2 separate regions of the Homo sapiens genome follow, and region 1 is linked to region 2. The links come from fine-mapping of genetic effects on gene expression. A gene starts in region 2. The other region holds a variant in brackets. All regions are shown on one strand. Distances are from middle to middle. Region 1 overlaps ADGRB3 (adhesion G protein-coupled receptor B3). Region 2 holds the start of ADGRB3 (adhesion G protein-coupled receptor B3).

What was found. PIP is the estimated chance that this variant, and not a neighbour inherited with it, causes the effect. A credible set is the group of variants that fine-mapping cannot tell apart.
Region 1: its variant is the best candidate, but not a certain one, in a credible set for the expression of ADGRB3 in spleen (GTEx, PIP 0.74).

The regions. Positions count from the first base shown.
Region 1 is chr6:68,758,556-68,763,555 of GRCh38, forward strand. All of the region lies in intron 3 of ADGRB3 (adhesion G protein-coupled receptor B3), which reads left to right. Among named protein-coding and RNA genes, the nearest start is that of ADGRB3, 130 kb to the left of the region's middle. The variant T/C (reference allele first, on the strand shown) is at 2,497.
Region 2 is chr6:68,632,029-68,637,568 of GRCh38, forward strand. ADGRB3 (adhesion G protein-coupled receptor B3) reads left to right here and starts at 3,254. Exons shown (of 32, transcript NM_001704.3): 1 at 3,254-3,972; 2 at 5,363-5,534. LOC127898563 reads left to right here and starts at 3,862. Exons shown (of 1, transcript NM_001414704.1): 1 at 3,862-3,939. The coding sequence starts at 3,862. The coding sequence ends at 3,939. It overlaps ADGRB3-DT (ADGRB3 divergent transcript), which reads right to left and starts at 2,296. Exons shown (of 2, transcript NR_125872.1): 1 at 2,157-2,296; 2 at 635-1,028. RefSeq lists a silencer at 2,993-3,202.

The sequences.
Region 1 (5,000 bases), 130 kb after region 2:
CTAGTGTATTCCCCCATGTGTCCTATGGTTAAGTCCCAGGATATCACATACATTCACATTTCTTGATCACAGTTATTTGCCAGTGCAGAAAAATGTTCTATACACATGCAGTCCAGCTGAATTATTATCTCCTTCTTGAAGTCATTTTTATAGCCCCTAGTTGAAATGAATGATTAAATATTCCTCCCATAGTGCCCATTAAGCACTTTTTATAGCATATGGCATTTATGTTGTTCAGCTTTGTAGTATAACAAATTGCTTCTATGTCTGTCTGACCACCCTTCTCCCAATCCTAAAAACTGCTTTAGGATAACTACATTGTTTCATTCCTTTTTGAATTACAACCAGCTTTGTTCCTCAAAAGGGTGATTCCTGAGATTGGCAGTTTTATACATCCATGCATACAAACACACACAATTTCAAGAGCACTTACATTTAGCAGGTGTCCAGAATACGAAATGGTAGGCCATGAACTCTAGAGGGCTTGAAAAGCCTTCAAAGATCACCTCATCGGAAGAGGCTACCCATGATAAAGTATTTTAAAGCAAGCAACCTCCCTTGATAATCTCATTGCTTATGAGAAAATAGTAGATATTAAATTATAGAAGACATGGGATATTTAAATATGCTTTAATGGTTTGTGGCCTATTTATTATTATATAGAGTGTATACATAGCCATTCACTACCAATAAAAAGCATTTATTTTTCCATATATTTGAGGCAAATGAAAAGAAAATATAATCAACATATTCCAAATTATTTAAACTAATTTGCTATTCATTTATCAGTTCAAAAGCATTTACATAGTTTTGAGAACTTTTTTCTTTTAAATATTTTATTCAGTTCTTGAAAGATTATTTTACATATATTGCCTAACAAAATATGTGCTTCTCACTAATTATATCTGTTAATTCTTTTGTTTTAGTTCACTATTAATTCCTATCTTGGTCTCTTTATTTTTAATACAGATGCTATGTGTGTAACTTTAAGCCATTGCATTCCTTATTCTAGAAATTGCCCTTACATTCTCACATGGCCTGATTTTATATAAAATTGAGGTCATGTATTCTTCATATCAAATTGGTTCTTTTTTAATGCAAGATATTTCAAATAAAAGTTTCCTTAATGTGAATGTTTCTTAAACTCAAATAAAACTTAAATATAGAATATTTCTTGTGTTAATGAAAATCTTTCCAATATGTAAAAATGAAATTTCTTTCAAAAACAAGAAAGAAACTAAGCCAATTGAGAGGTAAAAAAATGAAAACTATAGATGAAGAAAATGGATGTTAATAGCATAAATTATTTCATTGGCATTACCATATATTGTAAAATTTGACCTAACAAAATCTCATAGATTTTTATTCATTAAATAAAATAATATCTTAATTGTTTGAAGTTATTTTAGTTCAGTTTGGGTATGATACTATATTTTTGGTTTTATTCTGGCCAATGTACCCTTAACTTGGAAAATTACATTTAATTACATAATTTGCTAGTTTGACCTATTTCTTTTATATCTTAAAAGCATAAGCAGATACAAGCAATTCAGTACTTCTGATCATTGTATAATTTACATTATGGTCAGCATTGCATAATGAAAATCACTTATTCGTTGCAAATGATGGTAGTTCCTTATGCAATCAAAGATGGAGGTAAACATTTAGAATGTGAATTATTTCTGAAAATGACAAACACATACACATACACACATACACACAACTCAAGGACATTTCTCCCCTAGGGGTGGTTGTCATATACTTCAGTAATGCAGATTAAATTTCTAGTAGCTAGTTGGATAGAGCTTTTCCTATCAGGGAAGCTAAAATTCATTAAAAACTAATTAGAAATGTATGGGAGGTTAATTTTCCACGTTAAGCCTTATGAAAGTGAGATAAGTAATTCATAAAGTATCAAAGGATTGCTCTGACCAGAACCAAAGAAAATGACATTACCAAGTATTGTTTCCTGATAAATCACAGAAGCTATGAAAACAAGACAAGGCAAAAACTCAGGTTCAACTCATCTTGCTTTTTGTCAGAGGAAAACAACAAACGTAATGTCTACACAATTCTATTAAATGGTGGTTCCTGGCAAAGAATCTGTGAAGTAGCAGCTGTCCACACAGGTGGACTGCCTCCATTTTAGTATTCTAGCTAGAGAAAATCATGCCATTTGCCAGAATACATTTACCCTCAGCAAAACGTCACTGGGTATGAATTCTAGCTAGATTCAATGTCCAATTACTGAGCCCACCACAGGACACTATAATAGCAGCATGTCCAGTTCTCTGAATAAATTTGTCAGCTGCATTCAACATGCAATTTAGATATGTGGCATATAGTGGAAACCAAAAGGAAATATTCAAATACTATAATTTTTCCTTTTGCTAAACTTATAATTTCTAAAATACATTGGTATCATTTTTAATGTTGTCTTCCAGTTAAATGGCTTGGGTTATTTCCATGCTGGAAAAATTAAGTTGATTCTGTTGA[T/C]ATCCTTTCCTGCTGCCTCCTCCAGCGGATGTTCTCACTCCTCCCTGGTGATCCTAAGAAACAGGACAGCTGCTGACGGTAGTAAACAGCAGTACAATTCCTGCAGTCCCAATTCGGATCACATACCCTGTTAAGGCAGGAACTCCCCACCTCCAAGTCTCCAGGTGAAAGGCAACAAGGAGAGAGGGAGAAATAATAGATAGTATGTAGACAGTGCCCTAAATATTTTCAAACAAGCACACTTGGATTTACATATTTATATAAATGACCTAAACTTCTTTATTTGTCCCTTTCTTTTGACTCACCTAGGTTTTCAGTTGGTAACTCCTTGCAGGCAGTCTCAGGCGTGACTAGTTAATTCCATGGTGCTACTTTGAACCTAAATTAGGCTTCTACAGTTACTACATATTTCTTTGTATGTGTCAGTGTAGCACAGGTTGTGCTTTGGTGTCCTCTGCAGGCTTGTTCAGTGTCGATGTGGTGCTTGCTTGGTTGACTTCAGTGAGTGCACAGAGTATTATGCTGCTACGTTCCAAAATATGCAGGCGCCAGACATGTATTTTCTCTTTTATTATATAGGCTGTAGGTGATGTTACATAAACCTGTTTTCTCATGCCCCGTTTCTTTAGATTCTGCTTTTTTGTTGTTGTTGTTTCAAACTTGTTTGTCCTCTGATCAAGTCTAAGGTTTTTAAACAGGACAATGCAAATATGTTTTACTATTAGGTTTTCTACTCATCATTACACTGTGTTCAAAAATGGTAATTGAAAATGGAAAATGGAAAATTGTTATGAGACCAATTAGATAATGTGCATGTCAAGTTCAAGTTTAACTGAGAAGTGTTGTATGTGACCATTATATTGTCTAGTATTTTCTATAAGAATGGCAGATTTTTATTCATATCAATCATATAATGATTTAAACCATATTATTACATTTAAAATCTACCTTAAGGTAAAATGAAAGTTTCGTGTAGTGAATATATACAAATATTCAGATATCAAAGAGATTTACAATGTCCCTGAATGGTAAAACTGAATAATTGTACAAATATTGTTTCTTTCCAAGGTATTTTATAGTTTTAATGCAGTATTTTAAAGGTCATCTTTTTCCACTCTTTTCTCCACCATCTCATCTTCTGTCTTGTTCAATCCCTTCTCTTTTCCCCCTTCTTTTTCTCCCTAACTTTCTCTTCTTTTCTCCTCATTCTCTCTCTCAGTTTTCTGATCCCCTTTTTAAGAGCTTTGTAATCTGGAGTTAAATGAAAATGTTAACAGGTGAAAATAACTTATATATTTTGTTAAAATAAGTGAGTAACGATGAGCAATTTGATTGACTAAGAGCTAAATCTTACTGTGAACTCACAGTAATTAAATTAGCAATTTACAGATAAAGCATCAAAATAAGACAAAATAGACATAAGTCCAACCATGAATATATATATATAGAGAGAGAGAGAGTGATAGAGGTGACCAAATAAATTAGTGAAACAAAGAATTGTTGAATAAATAGGACTAGTAAATTAATTATTTGAAAAGGTAAAAGAAAGTAAATTAAAACAATAAAATAAGTCATAAACATATTTGCTTAAATTATAAATGTCATACGATACTTAAGGTCAAGTAGCAAGGTCCTCATAAAAATAACTGATAAGTGGAACCTAAATAAAATTGTCAAAAAATTAGACTCATAATCATAAAAAGTAAAATAAGAATTATAGTAATAACAATAGCACCTATCATTTGCTGAAATTCTACATTCTCTCAAAAAACCTGCTAAGTGAATTATTTATAATAGCACACGTAACCATCTATTAATCACATTACTCTGTAAACTTCAAGGGAGGGACATAGGGTTTAAAGATTTAAAGTAATTTATTAAACTCAGAGTCAGAATTTAAAACTTAGCCTGACTCCATACATTCATTTAAAACATTCCTTGTTTGTGGTCATTTAGGTTGTTTTAATTAATTAATACTATAACAACTAGTTGATATTTCTGATACTCACAAACATACACATACATGTGTTCATTTAGGAGATAAATTTTTCTTTTTTGAGATGGAGTCTGGCTCTGTCACCCAGGCTGGAGTGCAATGGCACGATCTTGGCTCATTGCAACCTCTGCCTCACAGGGTCAAGCGATTCTCCTGCCTCAGCTTCTCGAGTACATGGGATTACAGGCGCCCACCATAATGCCTAGCTAATTTTTATATTTTTGTAGAGATGAGGTTTCACCATGTTGGCCAAGCTGGTCTTGAACTCCTGACCTCAGGTGATCCGCCCGCCTTGGCCTCCCAAAGTGCTGGGGTTACAGGCATCAGCCACTGTGCCTGGCCACTTCTTTTAACTGTTATACTTTAATCATTGAAAAAGACATGCTACTCCTATTTTATTCATTTAATGTCACCTTGGTAGGCATTCATATTGCTTATTGATTTTTCCCCTATTACAAATAAGTTAACATGAAATTTTAATATACCTATGTTTTGCTCATATTAAAGG
Region 2 (5,540 bases):
ACTTTCTAAAATTGAGTAAACATATTCTAGAAACATTCTTATTTGAGTATGAGAATTCTGCAAATGATACTGAATTTTAAGCAATGATCCTGGATTATAGGGTTATTCTCAAAGTGGAGGGACTAAACTTAGCACATACAGACAAAAAGATGAAACAGAAATAAATCACACTTATAACCTCATCATTCCAAAGTAATCTTAATAAAATAATAGCAGGAGAGATAAATTTGAAAGGCTTTAATATTAGATACCTGGGTCAATTTAAAATGCCATACCAGACTATATTTTGATGTGCTAACACTGACCTCTCAATAGTTCTTCTGTAAATCATCAAGGAAACTTATGTAATAATCAATTTATACAATTAATGTGGTAGTTTTGGAATTAAATGCATTACCTTATAAAAGAGAAATACAAAGCAATGTAGTGAAACTTCCCAAGCAAATATATGTGTATCAACTGAAATACACATATACATATCATATACATATATATACACACACGTGTATGTGTACTTACAAATAATGCGTGCATACATATACATATGTATGTATAAAATATGTGTATATGTGTTTATATATGTAAACATAAATATAGACATAGACTTGTGAAAGAGACCAATGAAAGCAGATAATTATAATTTGAAATGGTGATTTTAATATGTATTCAGTCATAAAAGTGGACCAACATCAATAGAAAGGAAAGGACAGAGAGCTGAGGGTGTGTAAACTGCTGCTCTCTTTTTGCTGTTGGGTCAACATGTCAGCAATGCTTTCATATGGAGCAGCTTGCAGACATGAAACAAGGTGGTTCCTCCTTTCTTTGCCTTTGGATTGTGCTGTTGTTAGTGTCCAGAGACCAGACTGTCCATATAGGGTTCTTTTTGTGATTCTTTATTATAATCCCCTGAGGAAGTCAGACGAGCCTGGGGTTACTGGAGACAGTGTCTTGCTTGGCGTAGTTATCATCCACAAATCATCTGCTATAAATATATCTCAGAAGGATCATCATCAGGCCAGCTCAGTAGCCTGCAATTTATGAAGGTTATGAGAAACAATGTGAAGGGTGAAGCGCTTTATTAAGGGTGGCTTTCTTTTCTGACCCTGCCCTGACTTCTACTTGAATATAAATGATCCTGGGAGTAAGTGAACCTTTCCATTTAGGATTTAGGCTTTTAAATTGTCCCTTTCAGCTGTTATTCTTATGCCACTGTGTCATGACTTTAAGAATTTCTAAGAAACATCAAAATCAGTGTTACAAGATAATATGAGAAATCACTAGATGCAAAATAGAGGTATAACTGAACCTCACATTACATTCTTTCCTTTTTATGTATAAACCATCCAAAGCATTTTTTCCTCCGTTTTTATTCCACATCTGTCATGCTTTTTTTTCCTCTGGATAAAGTAACAGAACTGACCAAATTGCCTTGCGAAAATCATAATTACGATCTCTAGGGAAGTTGAAATAAATAAAATGTTTTTCTCCTTTGTGTTGCTCAATGTTCTTTGTTTTTAAAAGAAAATGTGTTGCTTAAACGGTGTTTCAAAATTTGTTCTGGACATAAACCCTAATTATTTCCTTTTAACATTTCCTTAAATGAATAAAAAATATTGTAAAGAACCAAAATGACACAAAACCAAAATGCCACCCAGGCTGCTCTCTTGCCGGTGATTTGTTACTGGGAAAATAGTTAAAGCCTGCTGGGGAATTATTAACTGTTTCCCCTTACAGTGTTTATCCCAGGCATTCGTTTAAGACGGGAAAGCCTTGAAGAGGGTCACTCTATTAATATGCATTAAGAAGTAAAGGACCAATTTTAATATTTCAAACAACTCCAGTGGATAACAGACCATAAACTTCCTGTTTTCACTATCAATCTCTTTTAAAATGGTGTTCTTGGCTATCCATAATCGCCCCAGGGGAGAGAAACAAGCGGAGGAAAAAAATGCAAGAGTGAGGGGAACAAATGATGGAAAATTGCTTTATTCAACTTCACCTGCCGCTCGAGAAACTCACCCTTACGAAGATTCCAGCACTTTATATGAATTACCCATTATGGTTTCCTCCCACCACATCACTGCACTATTTTAGCACTTGTTTTGCAAACCACCAACTGCGTTTACAAGTAGAAACATAATCAGGAGGCGAATGACCTTTTGTAGCATGTATCTGAAGCTGGTTTATCAGACACTTCGTCAGCCAACTGTCCAGGAGGCAAAATGACTATCTATGATGATAGATAGACAGACAGATAGATAGTTAGATTAAAAGGTGGGGAAACATCCCTTTTCCCTTTTTCCTTTCTATATAATCTGGTTTTTTCTCTTCACCCCTTTTCTCGCTTCTTCCCACCCCGTCCCCAAACCTGTTACTAGGGAAACTTGAAAAAGAATCAGATACATTAAGACTACAAAACGAAACAAAAGTTTAGACCCCGAAACCATGATTCCATTGCCAAGCACAAAGCAATGCAAGAGCCCAACGTCGGTCGCCGCACCGCGATCCTGACAAAGCCTGTATGGAGCCAGAACAAATAAGATGTTAATTGCAGCCTCGCAGAGAAAAAAATACTATTGTTCCAGCCAGAGACACTCAGCAGCTCGGTAGCTGGGATGTGCCCCCTCCGCTGCGGACTGGATCAATTCTGAATCCCGGTACTGAAATGACAGCTCTCTGGCTGCGACAGGTCTGCGCTGAAAGAAAGAGAAAGACGATCAAGTCCAGCATTCACTTCCCACCCTTCAGAGTCGCCTTCCCATCCTCCGCACCCCCCTGCCTCGCCTCCCAGTGAGTTTCTCTTACAGTTGGTCGCCGCCAGCCCCAGCGGTGGGAACTGAGGATGCAAAAACCTCCCAGACGCAGAAAATACCGCTTTCGGGACGTGCTTGGGTTTGAGTAGCCGTGACGTGCAGGCGAACCGCGGCCCTGGCTGGAGCTCCGTGGAGCCCCCCTCCCGCCAGCCTCTCCCCCGCCCTCCCGCCGGGACTCCCTCCTCTCCCACCCCGCGGCTCCCTTCGCCTTCTCTCTCACACACCCGCCCGCGCCCCCGGCAGGCAGAACTCCAGGAAGTCGCAGCGGCCGCGCCGCGCGAGCCGAGCCTCTGGCGGGCGGCGGGGCGCACCGCAGCTGTGCATAAGAAGGGCGCGCGGCACCCGGGACGCGCGCGCACACGAGCACGCGGGAGGCCGCCGCGCGGACGCGCTCCCGGGACACGCGCACCCCCCGCGCGCGCGCCCAAGGGAGAGCGAGCACTGCGCGCCGGCGCGCACACCCGAGACAGAGCTTTACTATCTCGCTCCCTCTCGCGCCTCCCTCCTCGCTGGGCATTCAAACAGCTTTCCGACATCACCAGCCAAGGATTTTTTTCCCCGCTCTCCTTAGTCGCCGTCCGTCCATCAGTACCTGCAGGGGGGAGGAGGAGGAGGGAGGAAAGCGGAAAGAGGAAAAAGCATAAGCTTGAGCCTTCCGATCCGACCACGAATACTCCTGTAATAAACCCACCGCCCCAACAAATCTGCCATAGCAGCCGCCGCCGCCGCCGGTCACTTCTCGTCTCAGCGCTTTCTTTGCTTCTTGGTTTGTTGGGGGTAGCTTTTATGAAACAAATCTTTGCTATTAAGCCACTTACATTTTGGGGGGTTCCTTAGAGTCTCCCTTGGGGGGGCTTCTCCCTCCCTTTAGCCCCCCTCGGTTTGGAGGTTGGATTCAGTTGGATACGGCGCAAGGTTCTGGGCTCCTGCTGGCTTTTTTTTCCTCTCTCTCATCGACCCCCCTTTGGTTCCCACCCCCCACCTTTTGCTTTTCGTATGTATGCATTTTTAAAAATAAATCCTGATTTTGGAAGCTGAGCCGGGGAAAATGGGCAACGGTGATTGGGACCGAAGGGGAGTCTCTCCGTCACTGTTGCTGGGACGCGTGCCTGTGCTGGTGTCTTAGAGCAAGAGCCTCCCTGAGCTTTCGGAGTGGAAGGTAAGGAAGGGGGTCCAGGGGTCACCTTTTCTCTGCCGGGGGTCGCCACCGTGGAGCTTTGGGCTTAATGTTTGAGAAGGGAGGAAAATGAAAGGAAAGGCTGTTGCTGGCGGATGGGGAGGCTGTGAGCAGATCCGACTGTCTGCATTTACTTAAACGCCGCAGTTGAAAAGTTAGAGAAGTCTGGTTTTCAAGAGATGTGCTGGGTCAGAAGGAATAAGCGGAGAGACCTAGAAAATCTGGCAGTTTTGTGTGATTGGGGTAATTTTATGAGGGGAAAATTTTAGGTTAAAAGGAAGTTAAGAGAAGGCAGTGGGTCTTCTATTGGGGGGAAAAATCTGTGGAGTGATGGCGCCGTCTATGTTCGACTAAACTAAAGTGTCACCCAGAAAATCAGTTTTGAGAATAGCTAAACTCAATGCTGGTTTGCTTCTCAGCAAGAGATAAATAAATAAATAAATAAATAAATAAATAAATAAAACATCCTTGACACCTCCGTGGCCAGCCTTTGCCCCCGCCCCCACCCCTTCTTTAAGAGGGAAACACGGCTTTTTGAACGGGCCCTGCAGTCCAAAGGGGGGTGAGGGTAATGATTTATTTTTTATTATTTAGAACAAAATAAGACTGTGTACTCCAGACTGATTAAAAATAAAGAGCATTATATTGAGTGCGCTCTCTTGAGCAGGCATTAAAGTGAATTCAGAGCTATTTCCTCACTCTCTGATCATTGATGAGCACGGCATTGCAGACATGCACTGTCAAATAAATGAAAGCAAAAGTACCAATTTCATTAGGAAAAGACATACGACCTCTTTTTGAGTTCCTGATTATAAAATGAAGTCCCCTTTCATGGATGGAATTCCTAATTTAGACACTTATTGTCACATTGGCTCTCAACGCCTACACTCTATCCTGAAGAACACTGCGCAGACCTGCATTGCCTGCAAAGTGCAACACCAAAAAAAAAAAAAAAAAAAGGAAATTATTTCCAGAATTTCTTACAACTTTCTCTGTTTTTTTTTAACCTTTAAATGCTCATTGGCTTTATTTTCTCATGAAGAAAATGCATTATTCATTGAGCTATTTGCTTGAAACAGAGAACACTGTTTTGATGGTCCCAGCAGTTCTGATGTTATTTTAAACTGCTGCTATATAGAGATTTAGAGTTGGGGCTGTGTTTGCCTATATCAAGACATAGAATTTGAATTATAATCTGGAAAATGCAGATCTATCTTCAGGGACTTCGGTCACTGGATTTGGTGTGCATGCGTTGGTGTGTGTTATGCAATGGGAAGGAAGAGGGTTTTATCCTTTGATTCAGAGAAGACCCAGGCAAAGGCATGAAAACTCTTAACTATCTATATGTCTGTATGTCTGTCTCTGTTTACAGAACAGTGGAAGAGACTGCAGCCTAAAGACTTTTAAAATTAACTTGGCATCACTTTTATCAGCTCAAAGGCTAAACAAACAAACAAAAGCAGTGTCATTTATTCTAAGAAATAACTTCTTAAAGGTTAAAGCTGAAAAATATTCAAGTTATTTTTGGATAACAACTTACAGAGGTAAAT